4 separate regions of the Homo sapiens genome follow, and all the other regions are linked to region 2. The links come from fine-mapping of genetic effects on gene expression. A gene starts in region 2. Each other region holds a variant in brackets. All regions are shown on one strand. Distances are from middle to middle.

What was found. PIP is the estimated chance that this variant, and not a neighbour inherited with it, causes the effect.
Region 1: its variant is fine-mapped to the expression of GPRIN2 in lung (TOPMed, PIP 0.96).
Region 3: its variant is fine-mapped to the expression of GPRIN2 in thyroid (GTEx, PIP 0.95).
Region 4: its variant is fine-mapped to the expression of GPRIN2 in unexposed skin (GTEx, PIP 0.97).

The regions. Positions count from the first base shown.
Region 1 is chr10:46,102,213-46,104,838 of GRCh38, reverse strand. No RefSeq gene overlaps it. Among named protein-coding and RNA genes, the nearest start is that of MSMB, 57 kb to the right of the region's middle. The variant G/A (reference allele first, on the strand shown) is at 951.
Region 2 is chr10:46,555,230-46,557,934 of GRCh38, reverse strand. GPRIN2 (G protein regulated inducer of neurite outgrowth 2) reads left to right here and starts at 1,277. Exons shown (of 3, transcript NM_001385282.1): 1 at 1,277-1,437. RefSeq lists enhancers at 1-535, 1,241-1,946.
Region 3 is chr10:46,795,177-46,797,881 of GRCh38, reverse strand. It overlaps the pseudogene BMS1P1. Among named protein-coding and RNA genes, the nearest start is that of FAM245B, 56 kb to the right of the region's middle. The variant G/A (reference allele first, on the strand shown) is at 1,446.
Region 4 is chr10:46,951,269-46,953,973 of GRCh38, reverse strand. All of the region lies in intron 5 of PTPN20 (protein tyrosine phosphatase non-receptor type 20), which reads right to left. Among named protein-coding and RNA genes, the nearest start is that of PTPN20, 41 kb to the right of the region's middle. The variant T/C (reference allele first, on the strand shown) is at 1,257.

The DNA of each region.
Region 1 (2,626 bases), 450 kb after region 2:
CTTGATGAAAGGATAAGAATGTATTTCAGAAAGAAGGAAACAACTCATAAGAGTGGAGTTCAACAAACAATGGTGAGCAAAGAAGCTGGGAACACGCTGATTAAGGTGAGTGGCTAGATACAGAAAATAATGACCATCACCAATATGGGGAGTTTTCTGAAAATGAAAGAATAATTTCAGAGGGGAGACCAGTTCCAGGAAAGTTTATCCAAGCAGATGGGGAGACCTTGAGCCATCTGAGGAGTCTGAGATTTCCTAGGCATGGGCCTGTCTTCATATCCCTGCTGGCCTCTGGCTAGAAGAAGCCTGTGAGGGGTGTGGTCTTTCCGTGAATGTGGTGGCCCATTGTGGTGGTAGAGAATGGATTCCCAAAACACTCCCTTCTCCCAGTCATACTCCCCACAGTCACAGATCTGATTGGTGCAGTTTCGTGCTCCCCACAATGTACTTAACTTGCCATTTAAAGTCAGAATTTGTCTGCTAAAAAAAAAGAAAAAGAAAAAAAAATGCAATCCAGCACCGTGGCTCATGCCTGTAATTCCATAGCTCTGGGAGGCAGATGCGGGAGGATTGCTTGAGGCCAGTCTGTGCAACATAGCAAGAACCTTTCTCTCAAAAAAAAAAAACACAAAAAACAAAATTAGCTGGGTGTGGTGGTGCACACCTATAGTCCTAGTTACTGGACTGTGGGAGGCAGGAGCCTAGAAGTTCCAGGTTATAGTGAGCTATCAGTGCACCACTGCACTCTAGCTTGGGCAACAGAGTGAGACCCTGACTCTTAAAAAAAAAAAATTGGCTGGGCACGGTGGGATCACGCCTGTAATCCCAGGACTTTGGGAAGCCAAGGTAGGCGGATCATTCAAGGTCAGGAGTTCGAGACCAGCCTGGCCAACATGGTGAATCCCCATCTCTACCAAAAAAATACAAAAACTAACCGGATGTGGTGGTGC[G/A]CACCTGTAGTCTCAGGTAGTGTTGGTGTGCACCTGTAGTCTCAGGTACTCGGGAGGCTGAGGCACGAGAATGTCTTGAACCCAGGAAGCAGAGGTTGCAGTAAGCCAAGATCGCACCACTGCCCTCCAGCCTGGGCAACAGAGTGAGACCATGTCTCAAAAAAAAAAAAAAAAAAAAAAAGCAGCAATAAAAACTGGCTATATACTTTCAAAAAGAGACATATCTAATACATAAGGACATAAAAAAGTTTAACATAAAAGGATGGGAAAAGATAACGGAGATATGGCCGGGATGCTGGGGAAACCAAAAGGAAGTGGGAGTCTTCAGCACAGAGAAAGTGTGACCAGGGGTTAAGAGGATCAGTTCCTAATCAGCTGCATTTTCCAGGAAGCCATAACAATTCTAAACTTGCATGCACCTAATAAAATAAAACAAAAAAACATAAACTATAAACTGAACAACTTTATAACAAGGCATGCTAATAAATGTTCAAATTCCTAGAAAAATATGTCATATGAATTGACAGAAATAGAAACACTAAATAAGTGTTAGGGCCGGGCATGGTGGCTCATGGCTGTAATCCCAGCACTTTGGGATCCAAGGCAGGCTGATCACTTGAGATCAGGAGTTCAAGACCAGCCTGGGCAACATGGTGAAACCCTGTCTCTACTAAAAATACAAAAATTAACCAGGCCTGGTGGCACGCCCCTGTAATCTCAGCTACTCTGGAGGCTGAGGCAGGAGAATCGCTTGAGCCTGGGAAGCAGAGGTTGCAGTAAGCCAAGACCATGCCACTGCACTCCAGCCTGGGCGACAAAGTGAGTCTCCATCTCAAAAATAATAATAATAATAATAATCATCATCATCATCATCAATAAATAAGTGTTAGTCTGCTCTGGGTGTCATAAGAAAATACCACAGGCTGGGGGACTTAAACAATAAAAATTTATTTGCTACCAATCCTGGAGGCTGAAAGTCTATGATCAAGGTGCCACCAGGATTGGTCTCTGATGAGACTCCTCTTCTTGGCTTGCAAACAGAGACCTTCTCATGGAGTTGTCACATGGCCTTTGCTCTGTGCATGCTTGAAGAGAAAACTCTGGCGTCTCTTTCTCTTCTTGTAAGGACATCAGTCCTATTTGATGAAGGCCTTACTCTTATGACCTCATTTAACCTTAATTACCTCCTTAACGCCCCATGTCCTAATACAGTCACATCACCAGTTAGGGCTTCAACATACCCATTTTGGGGGAGACAGAATTAGTAACATCCAGGAACTATTAAATTATATCATTTTAAAGTCTTCCCAAAAGAAAACACAAGGATGATATCATACCAGATATTCAAAGAGCAGATTATATTTATCATGTTCAAAGTCTTTCCTAGGAGAAAGAGCAAACCTCCAGGTGCATTTTATGAGTCTCTTATGACCTAATACCAAAAACAAATAAGGACAGCACAGAAATTGGAAAGCATGGACCCATCTCTCTCATGATCATAGATAAACAAAAAGTTCTAAATTATGACTAAACTCTAGCATGTTTTAAAATATGGTGGCCAAGTTAGGTTTATTTATAGCATTTTAAAATTGGTTTTGCATGCATTAATGTATCTAAACATACTAAATTTAGGTTACTGGACAGAAATACATGTTCATCACAAAATACCAGAAAAA
Region 2 (2,705 bases):
GGAACGCAGGCCTCTCAGCACAGGGCTGGGCCAACAAGTTGGGGGTCCCGGCACAGGGGACAACGGAGAAGTGCCAACATTGGGACCCAATTATGTGATACTGGGGCCCAGAGATAGTACAGGTGCCTCATACCACGTGGCCCTGGGTGGACAGCAGGAATCTATTGCGAGTGGCGGGAGGCCGGGGCTGCCTGTCCTGCGCCCTGAAGCTGGCCAGCGGTTGTGGAAACTGGGGGATATTGAGGGAACCGTAGGCCCAGGTCCTCAGCCTCATAGTGTGGAACCTGGCGATCCCAGGGCCTGGGCTGGCCCCCGGCGTCACGGGACCGGGAAGGCGCTGTGGTGCTGCGGGGAATTGCGGAGAAGAAGGCGGGCTCCAGTGGAGGTGGCTCATCCCCGCACGGTCACTGCCCTCGCCCGCTGTTGGGGTCCGCGGCTGGGAGACTGAAGGCCTCAAGTCGGGCTGGGTAGGGGCACGTGGGCAGGGAAAGGGGTGGTAGATTACCAGTCTTCAGGGGCGGGGCTGGAGATGCAACCCTAGGGAAGGAGTCTACCAGGCTGGGCTCTTGAGGGGCAATGGAGGGCTCCGGGGGCCAGGCCAGGCCAGGATCATGGAGTTCAAAGGACTGGAGTGAGGTTTGGGGTCCATGAGAGTGGAGCTCAGAGGATGGGACGGTGGGTCCAGGATTTGGGACCTGGGGCTGGAAAGTCCGAGGCTAGTGGAGACCAGGCCTGGTATCCCAGACGAAAGGGCCCTATAGGAAACGGGGTCTCGTGGGCGGGATCTGGAGCCAGAGAATTGTGAGAGGCGGAGCTAGGATGGAGAAGGCGAGAGGAAAGGGGTAGCCGCCGGCGCGGAGACCTCAATGCGGGGCGTGGTGCGGAGGGGGAACTGGAGCGAGGGGCACTGGAGCGAGGGGGTGGGGCTACGAGGAGGTGGACTTGAGGGGCTGGGTCTGGGGCCGGAGAATCGTGGGGAGCTGCGCCTATACACCCGGGACGGTGGGGTTGCGTCGGGGAAGTGGGAGTCTTGGGGGTTCGCTGGGCAGCCTGGAGAACAGGCGGTCGTGGTGCGGGCGGGGCCGAAAAGACCGAGGACAGTGGGGACCCGGCCTGAGGAGGGGTCGGGAAGGAGGGGTGGGGGCGCGCGGACGCAGATCCCGGGCCGCGGCGGGGCGGTGGCAGGCTCCAGAGTGGCACGGGCCCAGGTGAGCGAGGTCTCCGCCCGCCGCCCCTCCCGCCGCCCCGGTGCCAGCTGCCCCGCTGGCCCCTCCCTGTACCCGGCGCTTGCTCCGCGGGCCGGGCCGACGGCGGCGGGCGGCGTCTCGCGCCCAGGCCAGGTCGGCTCTGGCTCCATCTTGGGCCGCGGCACCTGGCACCTGTGGCGGCCGCAGGAGCAGCGCTTCCCCCGCCTGCGCGGCCCCGGCGGGCGAGAGGGTGAGAGGCTGGCTCCGCGCGCTCCCGTTGGGGCGGGGGGCGTGGTGGGCGGCACCTCCCCCTTGCTGAGCCTCAGAACCCACTCCTTCCCGCTGCCTGCGCTCAGACCCCCGGCATCCTGGCCCCTGCCCAGCGCCCAGAGCCCCCGGTGGCCGCATCGCACTCCCCGCGCTCCGCCTCTCATTGTCCTGTCCTGTCCCCTCTTCTACGTCTCCTCTGCCCATCCTCCCATTTTCACAAGTCTGTCCGGGACCCTGTCTCCTTCGGCCTCCACCCCTGCTGCCATCGCTCCTCCCTCTCCCCTTCTTCCTTTTCCCCTCCCTCAGCCTACTGCGCCGCCTACCCCGCCCCCAGCCTTGCTGCCCTTTGGCTTCTCCTGTCCCGCATCATTACCCCGGCCCACAGCCCCATTTGCCTGCAGTCGCTGCCTTTGCTCCTGAGAAGGTCTGTAGCCTCGTTTCGGGCCCGTATTGAGCCCCCTTCTCCCTAAGTCCGGGTGGGCTTTGTGCAGGAGGGGCGGGAGGGGAGCTATTCTGGGCGAGGCTGCGTGGTGCGGTGCTTTCAGGCCTTTGGCCCCGCAGCAGGGGCGGCCTGTGCTTGGCGTGCAGAGTGCAGCTGGGTAGACGCTGTTACTGCATACGGGCCTGTGTGTCCCAGGCTGGGGCATGAGTGCTTGTGAGCGTGCAGATAGGGACACACCGGCCGCCTAGGCTGCTTCTAGGCCGGGGCACCCTCTCCACCTAGGTGCCCCCCAGGGATTGTGGGCAAATCCTCCCCAGGGGAGGAAGCTCAGGGGCTGTTGGGCGCCTAGGCCTCTTCCTGGTGAGCAGAGCCTCATCCATGGGGCCACTGACCCCACAGTTACCCCAGAACCCTTTCCTGGCACAGCTTGTGACCCGGGGCATGTAGCCCTTAAGGCACGTTCATTGTGAAGGGCAGGTTTTGTCTCCTCCAAACCCTCCCTTTAGGAATGCTGCCTGCTGCTTTGCCCAGAGTTGGCCCTGAGTGTTCCTATCAGGCCCCGTTCACTCTGGGGTGGATTAAACCACCTCCTGGAGGGTGCTGTATCCCCACTGTGCAATGGGGGTTTGTGCTGTGTGCATTCCTGCCTGGTCCTTGAGAGGTAAGGTCCATATTTTAACATAGAACCAGTTTTCCTGCCTGATCATATAGGTTTGCTTTTCCTGTTTTGGTTTTGCCGGACACATAAGTCATCATCCAAATGCTTGCCACTTAACTAGAGGGGACTTGGGCCAGGCGCTGTGGCT
Region 3 (2,705 bases), 240 kb before region 2:
AACAAAGCTTGAAATGGATCCCCATCTCCATTAAACTTGTCCAAAGCTCAGTGAGTATATAACCTGATAACCTAAACACCTAGCTAGAAAAACCTCAGTTCCAGTGCTACAACAGTGCTAGCTTTTCTAACATTTTTAAGTAACCCTGCTTTTAACCCAATAAAATTCAACTACAGAACTAAGAAATAAATATTGGAAATCCACTTTAAAATAATGAGGAGACCACTGTGATTGAGAAAAAGAAAAAGACAAACGAGAGCTGGAAAGCACACTGATTTTGTAGAAACGGAAATAAGCCGTGCAGGTGCCACACTGGCAGCAGTGCCCGCGCTGGGGCCACGGATCAAGGAGGCATGGAGGACAGGACTCTTCTGCTTGGTACAATGAAAAAATGGTATTCTTTTTATTCTACATATTGACAATATGCATTTGGGCCTTTATTATAAGTACAAGAGAAAAATCTTCAATAAATAAAAGCTGAGTACATTACTTTTTTTGATTAAGAAATAGATTAGGAAAGAATAATGAGAGTTCAGAGCAAAGACTCCTGCCTCACTGATGCCTGAAAACCGTGGCTGCCACCAAGGTCAACACAGACAGCGTCTTTGTCATACAGCACACCCTCAACTCCAGAAACAGGCGCATAAACCAGCTGCTCCTTCTTATTTAAACAGCACTTCTTTTGTTATTCAGGAAGAACACAAGGGTCTGGGAGGAAACTGATGTCACTCATGGCAAAATGTTCTACCCCTGGAAGACAGGACCCAAAAAGCCAGCTTCAACTGACAAGAAGTCAGTAAGTATCTACTGTTGACTGGGGGGTTAAAAACGATCCACAGTCCAAGGGCTTAACCCATGACCCTAAAGAAGGGCATTGTGCCACACTGGAACAGTGGCCCTCTAGCTACAAGAGGTCAGAGAAGAGGGATTCGGTAACACCTTTGCAGGCCTACACATAGCTGGCTTACTTTTAAAACCTCCAGCAAGGCCATCTTCCCTTGTTTGGTCATTTTTCACTTTTCCTGAGAAATGAAGCCATCCCAAGAATCCTATGTGCAATTCTCGTATGTTCTACAGCAAGAGAATACCTGGCATGTGAATTTGGCTTTTATTTTTCAAGTGTGCTCCTCTTAAATAACCATAAAGTGACACCTGCAGGTCACATTTGATGTTTGTTTGGATATCCTCCGGGTTTGTCAAATCTTCCATCCTAGAAAAATAAACTCAATCATACAGCAGAAATGAATGCCAAAGTTCCTATACCTCCTTTCATGTGTCAATGACTCATCACACTCTTGTCCATTAAGCACATCACTTAGGAACTAGAAAATGCAGAAATAAGGAAGCACCGTTCACCATCCAGAAGAGGAAAAGGGGCAGGCACACAACTGTGTCTCTAGGCTGAAAGTGACATTCATTCCATAAGACACCAGATGGGAGATGGC[G/A]TCCACCTGGGGTCAGGGAAGAGTGAAGAACACATTCAGAAAATCCATTTCTCGAAGAGGGTGAGCCTGTGCTCTGGGATTTGTACTGTGGCTTGGATTCTGGCAGGTGGAAAAAGGGTATTCCAGGCTGAGAAAATCACAGCACAAAGAAGAGCACAAAGGAAGGAAACTGAAGGCATGCACGAAGGACTCCAGCACCCGGGCATGAAGGCAGCATCACTGAAAACTGAGGCTGAACGTAGGATGGGGCCACATCCTGTAGTCTTAAATGCTTCCAAGTCCTCCCATTTTCCTAAACATCTCATAATTAATTTACTCCCAAAGGCACAGCATCTTTGAGCAATGATATAAGTAGACATTTTCCATCAACTACACTTCTACCCCCACTATTCAAATAGGCACAAAATAAATCCTATCACTGTTCTTTTTCTAGCCTTTTTAGCTTTGAAATATATGGCCCAGGAAGAAAAAGTTTACAATCACCTTTTAACTGTCTGCCAGGATATAAGGGTGAAAAGTTTGCCATGAGAGGCCTAAACTTCATAACTGTAATAAAATGGCCCAGATTGTGGATTTCTTGGTTTTGATATTCTCCATGCACCATTCCAGAAAGGTAGAACAGTTTGGCAACCTAAACATTAAAGGAAAATTAAAAATTAAATTTCAATTAAATTCTCGTCAATACTGCAACAAAATAAAAGCTCTAAACAAGAAGCAATCCTAAGAAGGGAGACTTCCAGCAAAGCCACTGTCCTGAGGCTTCCAGAGCCTTGCTGGATTCTTTCAGGACTTATTAGAACCACACAGAGGCAGACTGCTCTGCAACCAAGCCGGGGCATCCATCTAAGTATGGTGAGGAGAGGGAGGTGAGGCCTCTGAGCACAGAAACGGTTCTGTGGCCGATGGACCACAGCAGTATGGAAAGGAAGGGGCAGTGCCTGGTCCTGTAACTGGGAGAAACTTCTGATGTACTCTATTAAGTCCCGACTCCAAAACACCCAGACATTGCCTGGTGCAGCAGGTACGGAGACAAATGAGATACACCAAGAGGCCCAGAATAACCACTCTCTTGAGGGAAACCTTCCAGAGACTGGGAACACATACACAAAGGGAATTCAGGAGGCAATTCCTAGAGAGACGTTTAGTAATGTCTCTTCAGTCTTTTTGTTTGTTTGTTTGTTTGAGATGGAGTCTCACTCTGTCACCCAGGCTGGAGTGCAGTGGTGCACTCTCAGCTCACTCCACCCTCTGCCTCCCAGC
Region 4 (2,705 bases), 400 kb before region 2:
AACTTTTCCAGAATATTGAAGAGGAGAAAACACTTCCCAAATAATTTTATAAGGGAAGCATTGCTCTGATACTAAAACCGGAAAAAGATATCACAAAAAAAGAAAATTACAGATGAATATCTGTCATGAACATAAACACAAAAAAAGTCTTCAGGAAAATACTAGCAAATCAAATCGTAAAACATAAAAACAATATTACACCATCACAAAGTTGGGCTTATCCCAGGAATGCAAAGCAGGTGAGATATTTGGAAATCAACCAAAGTAACTCACGGTATATCAACAGGCAAAAAAAAGAAAAACTATATGATGATCTGAATAGACGCAGAAAAAGCATTTAACAAAAGTAAGAGTCCATTCATAATAACTCCGGGAAACTAGGATAATAGGAAGGCTCCCTTAATCTGATAAATGGCATTCACAAAAATACTACAGCGAACATTATACTTTATGATGAAAAACAGAATGCTTTCTCCCTAAAATGGAGAATCTGGAAAGGATGTCCACTCCCTTTCCTCTTATTCAACATTGAACCAAAAGTCCTAGCGAATGCAATAAGTTAGTAAGTCAAAAAAAAAGAAAGAAAGAAAGAAAGAAAGAAAGAAAGAAAGAAAGAAAGAAAGAAAGAAAGAAAGAAAAGAAATGAAAGGCATATACATTGGAAAAGTAGAAAAATAAAACTGTGTTTATTCACCAACATGAGTATCTACTTAAAAAAATTCCAAAAAATATATTTAAAAGGCCCTAGAATTAATGAGCATTTAGGAAGGTTGAAGGACACATTGGTAATATACAAAAATCAATCATATTTCTATCTACTATCAATGAACAATAGAAGTTAAAATATTTTTCATAAGTCTCATTTACAATAGCACCAAAACATGTGAAATATTAGATATAAATCTAACAAAACATATATACAATCTATATGTTAAGACTGCAAAACAAACAAACACTGATGAAAGAAATCAATGCAGACCTAAACAGAGTGAGGAATGCTTCCGTCAGGAGAAACAACAACAAATCCGTTAAAGTGGAATTTGAGAACGCCACCAGGACATTTTGGGTTCCTCATATGCTACTGAATCATCAGGGAAAGGGGGATTACTACACTGCCTAGTGTGCTGGATTCCAAGTATTAAGGGGAAACTGGGCTGCTGCTTTCCAATGGAGTAACGAGGAATACGTCTGCAATGCAGGTGATCCTCTAGGGTGTGTCAAGGTGATTAAGTAAACAGAAAACTAGAACCACCCAA[T/C]TTAGGCAGAACTACTAATGACTTAGATCTTGAGGAATGAATGTGTGGGTCACCCTATCAGACAAGGAACCACAACCAAATGGGATGTTTGCTGAGCTGAAAGAGAATACCAGACAGGTGTAAGACGGCAGTGATCAAAATCAGATACAACCATGTGACCAGCTGCATAAACAGGGATAAAATATTGTGAATTTTTCTTTCTTTTTTGATATGCATATTTTATACATATATATATATCATATTTTTGTTTTCTTTTAAAAATATTAAAGGGAATGTGAATCAGTTGGAAAAGAAAGAATATCACTCAAGACAAAAAAGAGACACTTTTGGAGAAGGGGAGAGAATGTTTTCAGTTGTACACAGATTAGTTTTATCACTGTAGATGCAAGCATAAGGTTGTCCTTATTTGGATATTAAGTAACATTTAAAAGGGTGTATATAGGTGCCAGGCTGATACAGGGTGAACTGTGATAGCTTTATAATATGTTGACATGGCTAGGCTGGACCACTTTTCCCAGAATTCTGTTCTCTGAATGTTTCCAGCTAAAACAGGGCACAAGCGAGGTTCTCATGTCAGATCTGGAAGGTGAACATGGGGCAGCAGCTATTCTGTGCTCAGATGCACTATGGATGATCTCCTGACTCCCCTCATTCTATATGTGGAAGGAAGAACTTAAAATCACAACAGTGCCAATCCTACCTGAATGAATATAACTGGCATGTCATTCTATCTAAATTTCAAACAAGTTTACACAGGAATGAACAAAATAATTTAAAATCACCGATGCAGCAAAAACTTGCCCAAATAGCTACAAAAATGTATTTTTTAAAAAATTAGAGGGAGGATTTTCCTTTCCAGATATATTTAGAATAAGTAGAATCAAAACAGAATAATATAATATGTCCACAGGAACAAACAAGTCAGTTAGTGAAAAAAAATTTAGAGAATACAAAAGGATCAAACATTTTTGGAAACTTAATATGTGATAAAAGTATATATAAATTCATTTGGGAAATGTGGTTTACTTAGTGAATAGTGCTGGTATAACTGTCCAGTCATATGAAAGAAAATATAGTTTTCTATACCCCTATAATATTTAGCAATAAACTGCAGATAGATTCGTGATCTAAGCAAAATAAGTGAATAAAAATTCTGAAGAAAATTTAGGAGAATATTTGCATGTTTTTCCTGTAAAGAAGACCTTTTTAAACATTTTAGAAATTAAGAATGTTCATGAAAGTCTCCCTTCTTAAGGTATAGAATTGAGGGTTACAATTTATAGCACATTTGTCAGACAGACAACATGTTAAGATTTCCAACATGTGAAGAGTTCCTACAAATTAATAAGAAAAACAATGAACAAAGTTTATAAATATGCAAATCCAAGAAGAAGTTAATAAACATATATTAAGATACTTGATCCTAGCTGGGCACAGTGGCTCACGCCT